Regions from separate parts of the Homo sapiens genome. Here region 1 is linked to region 2. Evidence: fine-mapped expression QTL. A gene starts in region 2. The other region holds a variant in brackets. All regions are shown on one strand. Distances are from middle to middle.

What was found. PIP is the estimated chance that this variant, and not a neighbour inherited with it, causes the effect.
Region 1: its variant is the best candidate, but not a certain one, in a credible set for the expression of NAA11 in tibial nerve (GTEx, PIP 0.65).

Annotation. Positions count from the first base shown.
Region 1 is chr4:79,214,655-79,219,906 of GRCh38, forward strand. The region is part of intron 4 of LINC01088 (long intergenic non-protein coding RNA 1088); the gene reads left to right. It also overlaps a transcript of NAA11 not described here. Among named protein-coding and RNA genes, the nearest start is that of NAA11, 110 kb to the right of the region's middle. The variant T/C (reference allele first, on the strand shown) is at 2,812.
Region 2 is chr4:79,323,621-79,328,872 of GRCh38, forward strand. It overlaps NAA11 (N-alpha-acetyltransferase 11, NatA catalytic subunit), which reads right to left and starts at 2,441. Exons shown (of 2, transcript NM_032693.3): 1 at 1,556-2,441. The coding sequence starts at 2,257. The coding sequence ends at 1,568.

The DNA of each region.
Region 1 (5,252 bases), 110 kb before region 2:
TGGGCATGGTGGCGGGCACCTGTAGTCTCAGCTACTTGGGAGGCTGAGGCAGGAGAATGGCATGAACCAGGAGGCAGAGCTTGCAGTGAGCCGAGATGGCGCCACTGCACTGCAGTCTGGGCAACAGAGCAAGACTCCATCTAAAAAAAAATAAAAATAAAAATAAAAGTCCAACTTCAGTCCTGTCTTATTTCTCACCCTCTCTTGCATTTCTGCCTTCCACCAGGGAATGACACAGCAAGAAGGCCCTTGCCAGATGCCACCCCCTCAATCTTAGACTTCCTACTCTCCAGTACAGTGAGCCAAATAAATGTCTGTTCGTTATAAATTGCCCAGTCTATCATATTCTCTTATAGCAGCACCAACAGACTAAGAGAGTGTATTTATTTCCTTTTGCTGATCATGAATTTCTCATATTGTTCATCAAAGTCAGTGATAATTTTCTTCTAAAAATTATTTTTTAAGTGATACTAATGGTTAATTGTATAGTACCTGCTCTTTTCTAAATATTGTTCTTACCAATTTACACATATTTACTTAGTCAATAGTCCTACTAAATAAGGATTAATATGCCTTGTATTACAGATCTAGAAACTGAGGCACAGAGACATTGAGTGACTTGTTTATGTTTGCAGGGTAGTTCTCTGGGTAGTCTTGGGCCAACCAGTTCCCTCCCTTTCCTTACTGGAAGTTCTCAAGAATAACTGTAAAATATGCTGGGAATGCAAAATCCTGAGAAAAGAGTAGACTGGCCAGAACAGCCAAGGCTCTATTCCAGTCCCCCCTAAAAAGAAGATGTCCCTGAATGCTTCATCCCAGCAAATCATGTTATCCTGGAGTGTAAAACCCAGGTTGGGCTGCTTTCTGGGTTTCCTCAGCTGTGGTACAAGTGGACCATGAAAAAGTAAGACTCTATCCACCCCAGGTAGTTTTCCTGAGCCTTCAGGTATTGATTCACAATTGTCGCTTTCTGCCTGCTGCATGTAACCTGTCATCTATGTGAGTATTCTGTCTTACTGGATTTAGGCAAGTCAGTAACCAGTAAACAGCAAATCTGCTTCAAAATGCTCATGTAGCTAGCATGACTTGGACTTGAATACAGGTAGTCCAAGTAGTCAAGAACTATAAAATGAGGATAATAGTAGTTCTTATCTCATAGAATTATTGAGTGAGGATTAAATAAATGAATACATACAAATTAGAAAAATACCTGGCAAAGAATGAGTATTATACACCTTATCTCTAAGTATTATTTTTAGAATGTATTTTTAGAAGAATTATATTATTAACTATTATTGACTTTGGTAAACCATAACTATTACAGATTCATAATCATCAAAAGAAAATAAATACACATGTATTTCATTCTCTTAAGTACTCTGTTCTATTCTTTATAATCATTTATAAGCACAAATAATTTTATTTTAAAAATATTATCTCAATTATGTTTACTCTTTATCTCAATTATTTTACTTTTTAAGCTGTATCTAGTCCTTTGGGGAGCAAGGTAGGAGATAAGTGAACAAAAAATTGTGTACTGTAGAAAAGTTGGGAACTATGAGTAATAATGAAGAAAATAAAACCATCCAGAGTCCCATTTTCTAGAATATCTGTTAATATTATTATAGTTTATTTATTTGCACATTTTTCCTGAGCTTGCTTTTGTATGTTTGAGATCATAGTATATCTCCTTTACTCATTTAATATTATACTATAAGCCTGTGACCCAGAACATCTCTTACATTATTTTTAAAAGTCAATACATTTTGAAAGATTTCTTTTTGGTGGGTAGAGTCAAAGTTTATTTTTTAATTAAGACTATCAATTAGCAAAACTCTCTTCTTTAATAAATTCATCAAATGACTGAAATGGTATTATATACACTTGATATTTGTAGAGGAGGGCTGAGTGACATTTTTGGATGTCTTAGGCTGAATTTCCCAAAAAGTATCTTAAATAATATTATATTTTCTAGATTTATTCTTTGAAATGACATCACTAATCATTTAAAAGAATAGTCTATTATATTGACAGCAAATAAAAAGAAAATCTATGTTCACTGTCACTAGTTTGTTGACCACCTCTTGTGTTTCTTACCAGAACTTGACTTCATGAGCTTCCTATTCACCTAAGGAGTGGTGGATGGCTGGTAAAATTGAGTATATGCCCAAGCCAGTATTGATGGAATAAAAATGGCTTCAATACAAGGCCTCTATTAACATGTATTCTGTTTTCCTCACAAATTTATGGAATTTTTCCACCAAACATATGCATATCTGAAATTCAAATTGAGTGCACCTTACCTCATGCTCTCCTCCGTACCTCTAATGAGGTGGAAAAATGTACATTAATGACAGAAAGTTATTTAGTGCTGAACAGAGTTAATTGCTTCTAATCACTGCTTACATCCATGTGGTTTTATGGTAGACAACAAACCTCTTCATTGGGTTTGCTCATTAGACATATTGTAAATCACAGAGATGCACTGGCATCTTGCATATTGTGCTTCTATTAGTGAGGCAGCATTTTCATATAGCCCCAGTGGCAGGCTTTGGGATGCAGATCAACTTGTCTGTGTTCTGTTAGAACTGCAGGGAGTCCTGGTGAACTGGCCTCCTAGGCTCATTTGGAAGGCAATGGAAAGCTACTACCTATCAAACTCTAGATGAAAAGCTGTGAAAGAGCTGCCAGAGACTGGGATAGCAGATACCTTTGCCATGATTTTAGGTGGTAATATTGGTGACTATCTCATTTTCCCCCAAAAGCTTGGGGTTAAAACTTCCTTCTACTACTATTATTTGGCAGAGTAAA[T/C]AGAAAAAGGATTGTATGAACAAAAAATCAAGGTTTAAAACAGAGGTAGATGCAATCTTTAATCTTGTGTCTAACACTAATAGCTTCTTAAATTGTAAAGAGTCAAGCAATGTTTTATCAGAATTTTGGGAAGATCAAAGGAAAAATATAAGCACATGAATTATTATAGTGAATAGCTTTATCATACCAAAATTACACTTGAGCTAAACTAATTAAGATGCTGTGGTGTAACTGTGCCATTAGCTGATATCAGTTGATGATAAAAGATTTAGAAAATTCATATGGGAAGTAAGACCTGCAAATTTTGTGACAATGTAGAACATTTGACAGGATATTATAATTACCATAATATCTTACATTGTAGGTAATTTTATCAGTTAAACAAGAAATAATCCCTAAATCTTAAAAGAGAGAAGAGGAAGAAACAAAGGGAGGGAAGGAAGAGAGAAGGAAGGAAGAAATAATACATGTGTAGAAGTGTCTGATATTACTTTTCCTTTTTTGGTGCTTGCCTAATTCCTTCCCATTAAGGTAAATGACTTTAGAGGGAGGTAACTAAGTCATGAAGGGTGCAGAATTTAAAACTGAATAGTAACCTAGGGATTATCTGGTAATATATACTCTCCTCATTTCATAAATGACATAACTGAGGCCCAGAAAGATTGAGTTGTCAAAGATAGGTCAAACAGTTACTTTCATGGCAGCAGTGGGGTAAGAGAATACAGATCAGTATCATGTGTCCTCACTCAGCTAGACATCCATTAATTTGTAATCAAAATTAACAATATAACTTAAACATGTATGTAATGTGCTCCCCACCTTCATATTCCCCATTTTTGTACTTTATTTAGGAAAGAAGGAAGTGACAAATAAGTTAGTTTTTTTTTTTTGGTTGGAAAAACAATTTAGACAACATAGTCTATGGTGACTATATATTTAGCTGTATTTTTACATATACAACTCCATAAAATACTAAAAAGCTTTCTGAGTCATTAAAGGTTTGTGAATTTTGAAGTACATTTAGGTCTAATTTAAAACCTAATAAAACCAAGAGTTATTAAAATTGATAACTCACATCTGTCATATATGATAACTATTAGTCCAAATACTTTATTACCTATCAGGAGTATAAAAGTGAAATTTCACCATAGTTCAATTTTTTGGAGTAATTATCCCAACCTCAATTCCGCTATTTTTTAATATTTTAATGTCTAGATTGAAATGGATTTCTATGTCTTCTTTGCTTCTTCTGTTACCTTTACAATTGAGGTGTAATTGAATAAAATCAACCTGATTTCAAATTACTTTGGAAAGATTTTCAACATAGCTACAATCTTGGTCTCAGGATTTTGCTTAGATTCTTTAAGGATCAAGAGATGTATATGCTGAATTCAATTCATATCAATGGTCTTCTTTTAATTCTGTACTACCATGCAAAATTTTTGCACTTTAGCAAAATATTCAGAGATGTTCACTTTTATTACACCTTTTTTGTTGAAAAATATTCACAGTATATACATATATAATACATGATATATAACATATATACACATGTAAATATAGAATTAAATCATTAAGAAACATATTTATAAATGGGTTATGCCCTTTTACTTTTTTAAGTCCCTACAATATTTTCTTTATAATCTGATTTGATTTGACTTTAAATTGAAACAAGATTTTAAAAACTGTTTTGGAAGTGTTTTTTCTCTCCTTCCACATCTTTAGCATTCAATATGAGTGGAAGGCCAATATGAGCTTGGTCGATTGGATGAGGGTTAAATGAAGAGTAGTCATTATTTCCATTGCTTTAATTATGCCATCCTCACCATGATGGACCTTGCTCCATTTCCCTCCAGTAGACCTGACAGACTATAACTGACCTAATTGATACCAGATGACAGCTCAAATAAGGCCTAATAAAGAAGTAATCACACTGATCTAATGAGCAAGCTGTTATGATATTGGCTTATAGAAAGCTGTTTTTTAATCCCTCCATTTTTCTTTTATTATCCGTAACCACTATTCTCAATCTCCTTTTCTGTGATTCTAGAATCGAAGGACTAAAATGGACCTTAGGGGAAACATAAGCTTGATTTCCTGTTATTTGTGCTATATGATATGCATTGACATTTTTTTCAACTCTTAAATATAGAAATGCCAAACAAACTGAAAAGTTGAAAGACTAATACAATGATCACATATATACCTCCATTTCACATTCAGTCATTATAAATATTTTGCTATATTACTTTGTATTTATATGTATATATACATTTTTTCTGAACCATTTGGAAGTAAGTCACATGTATCACAACACTTCATCCCTGAATGAATATTTTCAACATATATTCCTTTAAAATAAACCATTCTCCTACATAAGCATAATAGTAGCAGCAAATTAACGATAATATCTGGTCTATGTTCAAGTTTCTCCAACTGTC
Region 2 (5,252 bases):
CCATCCTGGCTAACACAGTGAAACCCCGTCTCTACTAAAAATACAAAAAAATTAGCCAGGCGTGGTGGCAGGCGCCTGTAGTCCCAGCTACTCGGGAGGCTGAGGCAGCGGAATGGCGTGAACCCGGGAGGCGGAGCTTGCAGTGAGCCAAGACAGTGCCACGGCACTCCAGCCTCGGCGACAGAGCTAGACTCCATCTCAAAAAAAGAAAAAAAGATACAAAAATACAAAAATTAGCCAGGCGAGGTGGCGGGCGCCTGTAGTCCCAGTTACTTGGGAGGCTGAGGCAGGAGAATAGCTTGAACCCAGGACGTGGAGGTTGCAGTGAGCCGAGATCGCGCCACTGCACTCCAGCCTGGGCGACAGAACGAGACTCTGTCTCAAAAAAAAAAAAAAAAAGTACAGTAATTGTTTTGGCTCTTTAACTTTTCATGCTAATTTTCACACATTCGAAAGAGTAAATGGCATAAGGAACCCCCTAAGTACCCATTTCCCAACCCAACAATTATCATTGCCATTCTTATTTCATTTTCCCTCTTTCAATCTTTTTCTTCTTTTTTTGCTGGATTATTTTAAAGGAAATCCTAGGCATCCTATTATTTCAGCTATAATTATTTCTGTATGTATCTTTAACAGATAAGGACTTTCTAAACATAATACAATACCATTTAGCTCCTCTAATAAAATTATTAGTAATTCCTTAATATAGTCCCCGTTCAAATTTTGCCTGATTATCTCAAAAATGTCTTATACATGGTTTGTTTGAATCAGTATCCAAACAATGTCCATAGCAGTTGAGTTTAATGTATCTGTAAAGTTTAACAGAAAATGCTTCATCTTTTTTTGTGTGTGTGCCATTTATTTGTTGAAGAAACCAGGTCATTTGTTTTGTAAAAACCTCTCATTCTGGATTTGGCTGTTTGCATCATGGTATAGTTTAACAAGTCCCTCTATTTTCTGTAAAATGGTAGTCAGATCTCATAATTTTCTTTTGGAAAGAATATTTCATAGGTAGTACTGTGCACTTCCTGTTGCATAAGGAGACACATATTTGTCTCCACGTTTAGTGAAGACTGACTACACTGACTTCAAGTGTTGTCAGTCTGATCCATCATTACAAAGTGCTCCAACTTTTACCTAATGCTATTAGCCATTGATGACTCTTGGCTGGGTCCATTATTTCATCAAGAGTTGGAAAATGATGATTTTATATTTCTATCATTATTACTAACTGGAATTCCATAAAGAAAAAAATGCCTTTCATCAACTACGTGGTTACCCTGAAATACAACTCATGCCCAAAAAGCAGGATAAATGCTTGTTTCTTCATTGAAATTAATCTACTTTCAGCATGAGCTGGTATCCTATTTAACTTCCAATAGCGTGTAATGAGTCTCCCTCAACTCACTCTAACTTCTCCCTAAGGTCACCAGGTGGTTTTTACCGTAAAATCTCGCAGGGCCAGAATGGGGTAAGACAGGATGGAATTGGGCAGGCCAAGGCAGGATGCAGGGATTTAGGAGAAGGGGGTACTGGGTCAGGGAAGACAGAATACCTTAAGCATGCTCTAGGAGGTGGAATCCGAGCTTTCTGAGCTGTCCTGGACGTTGGTGCTCTCCACAGACTCCTTAGGTTCTTTGCTGTCACTGCCACTTTCTTCGGTAGCCGGGTTCTTTTGCTGACAGGCCTCTTCAGAATCAGAAAGTGTGCTGCCCTGGGTCTCCTGGTTCTCCCTGGAGCCCAGGACCACATACCCGCCCTTCTTCAGGTCCATTTGTCGTCTCAGCTCATCTGCCATCTGCGAGAGATCCCGCTTCATAGCATAAGCATCTTCCCCATCTGCATAGTATTTAGGTTCCACCTCACTAATCTGAAAGTTGAGGGTGTTAGAATAAAGGTGCAAGGCTGGCCGGTTACTCTTCCTGACGTGCAGAGACACGTATTTGGCGTTAAAGTTCTCTATCATGGCCCTGGAGGCCTGGTCCATCAGCTTCTGGGCCAGGCCGAGGCGCCGGTGTGAACGCTTCACGGCCAGTGAGGTGATATGGCCATGCGGGACATCATCTGGTTCCTCCTCCATTTTGGCCAGAACATAGCCCACAATCTTCCCGTCCTCATCCTCAGCGATGTAAGAAAGCTGGGGCCAGGAAAGGCCATGATATAAATAGTATTTCATCTGGTAGTTCTCAGGAAGGCAAAGGAGGTTGCAGTGTTGCATATTCATCAGGTCGTCTGGCTGAGCGTTGCGGATGTTCATAATGGCAGAGGGTAGGGAACCGGTTGGACTGCAGTGAACCCAGAAGAGGCTGTCGCCGACCTTAAGGGGCACTGTTTGCCTCAGGAATCGAGTCCAGGGGGCTAACACCACCGGGCTGAATCGTGTGGAGGGCGGATGGCGGGAAGGCGGAAGGAGCAGGAGATGGAAAAGATGGTGCCAAACTGCGGCTTTCAGAAGTGCGTCACTGATCCCAGCCAATGAGGTTTCGCTTCATTGTGCGTGTGCGTGCGCAGGGGTTAGGGGGTGGGGAGAGAGGAGTTCATTGTGGTCGCCTTTGTTTTAAATAACGCGATCCATTGCAATTATTATTTTTGTTTCAGTTTTAACTTTTTGATTTGGGTACATCTGAATAAATTTTCACAAACTGGAGAAACCCATATAACAGGAACTTAGAGAAAATAAAGAACATTGTATCCCAGAACCCCCCCTCCTGTCCCCTTCCAGTACCTGCTTCCAACATCCCAAGAATAACGATTACCTAGACTTCCGACAGACTTTATATAAATGGAATCATAGTGCATGCATTATTTTTGTGTCAGGTTTTTTCAGTCACTCTTTGTAAGTTTCAGCCACCTCGTGTATAGCTGAGGGTTCTTTATATTCTTCCTTGTTTGATATTCTATTGCCTAAATATGTCACAATTTTTTTTATCAATTCTACTGTTACTGGCCATTTTGTCATTTTCAGTTTGGGAATAGTACCCCTAGGGTAGCTGAACATTCTAGACTTGTCTTTAGTTGGAACAAATGCATATTTATCTAGGATTAGAATTATTGGGTCATTGAATATAATGATGTTCAACTTTTATAAATACTGCCACTTTTTCAGAGTGGTTGCTCCACCTTCTCAACAGCATTTGCTATTTCCCCATTGTTTTTATTTTAGCCATTCTTTTGTAGGGGTAGAAGTATTACACTGTGGTTGTATTTGCATTGCACTGATGAGTAGTAAAGTTGAGCACTTTATATGCTTATTAGCCATACTGTGTTCTCTTTTGTAAATGGCTGCTCAGATTTTTTTGCTCATTTTTCTACTTGTGTGTCTTTTTCACATTAATTTTTGAGTTTTATCAAAAATATATTCTGGGTATAAGTCCTTTGTCAGATATATTTGTAATGAATATCATTCTTGTCTATTGATTGATATTTCCCTTTCTTAATGGTGATTTTTGACACCAAGCATGAATTTTAATATAGTTCAATTTTTCCAGTTTTAAAATTTGGTGGTTAATGCTTTTTGTGTTCTGTTTAATAAATCGTTGCATACTCCATGGTGACTGAAGGCATTCTTTTATATTTTCTTCTAAGATTGTTAGTTTTACATTTTATATTTAGATCTGCAATTGACTGAAATTTAGTTTTGTGTATGCTGTAAGGTATCAGTGGACCCAATATTCTTTTCCTGTGTGGATGTACAATTCATATAGCACCATTTACACCATTTTGTGAAAAAAGATTATTATCCTTTCTTCATATTACTGCATTGTTACCTTTGTCATAAATCCTAAGTTTTATTTGTAGATGCATTTAAAAATTTTAATGTCATCTTAGCTGGGTGTGGTTATTCATGCCTGTAGTCTCAGCTACTTGGGAGGCTGAGGCAGGAGGATCACTTGAGGCCAGGAGTTTAAGGCTGTAGTGAACTATGATTGCATGACTGCACCCCAGCCTGGGTGACAGAACAAGAAGAAGAATAAGTAAATAATCATATGCCATCTCGATAAAGCAAGATTTGGGGTATTTAATAGTGCAAGGAAGTCACATTTTATTAGCACTACTTGCACAAATGGAATTATCTGTGTGTCTCGTACAGTCTTTCTTCCCAGTTTCCTAGCAGACCTCAGAACTCAAGTACCAAAATGAATTATGTTGTAATTAGCCAGGTCATGGATACCCTCTTAACTCATCTAGAATATGTGTGCAGCTTTCTTTCCAATGAGGGTACGCACTCCTTTAATAGCTAGAGTAACCTAGAGCCATGTGATCTGTGAAACATAGCTTGAATAGCCACTATTTTTGTTGTATTTTGACAATTGGCAGTATCTATTAATATATTTTTAAGATTTAACGTAAGCATTTTAGCTCCCTGATTTTTTGATAGGCTGTATACATTGGAAAAGTTATTCACCAGTATTATTTCCGTTCAGAAATTTCTTTCATGTTGTGCCTGACACCATGGATGGGGATCTATAATTTGTAGTGATGTAGCTCTAAAAGCATGATCCAGAAGAGTCATTTTGTTGATTCTTCTGTAGTGGGTTCTTCTTTTAAAAAGCATAGACTATTGAAACTTGAGTGCACTGTATTCTTTGACAGGGTTAATTTAAATGCAGCCAGGTTCATTACAGATACTATATCCTTCAACATAGAATAGTGCTGACTTAATGCTCAAGAGTTGGGCAGTATACTTGACTTATTCCAGAGTAGGCATGGTACCAAAACCAACAGTAATAAGCATGGTTTTTAATATACAATAATGTGATCTTTATTCATATAAAATCGTAGAAGGAATATGATGACAACTCCACTGTCATGGAAGAATGGTCTACCAGTTGCAATGACCACAGTAGCTAAGACAAAAAATGCAAAAACTGGTTATATTCTGATAGGCTGTCTTCTTTTTTGACAGAGAAGTTGCTATCATATATCCTCAGCATTTGCATATTCATTTCAGCTGCAGTGGAAAGCATGGATCCAAAACTAAAACTCTGACCCTTAAGGTGGTGTTGGTAGTAAGTAGTACTTAATTTGGCCCCTCCTACTGAGGTCAAGTATAAATGTTCTCTCATGAATTACAATGTGCCTCTAATTTCTGGACTATCGATCTAGCATGTCTTGTCAAGTTTTGTATGTGGTATGTTTTTATCATAAGTAAAGGGCATTGGCAATCTTCATTAATATTTTGCAAAAATTTAGCAAAAAGTCATCTAATACATAAATGTTTTGTAAATGAGAGCTCCTGGAGTTCTAGTCAG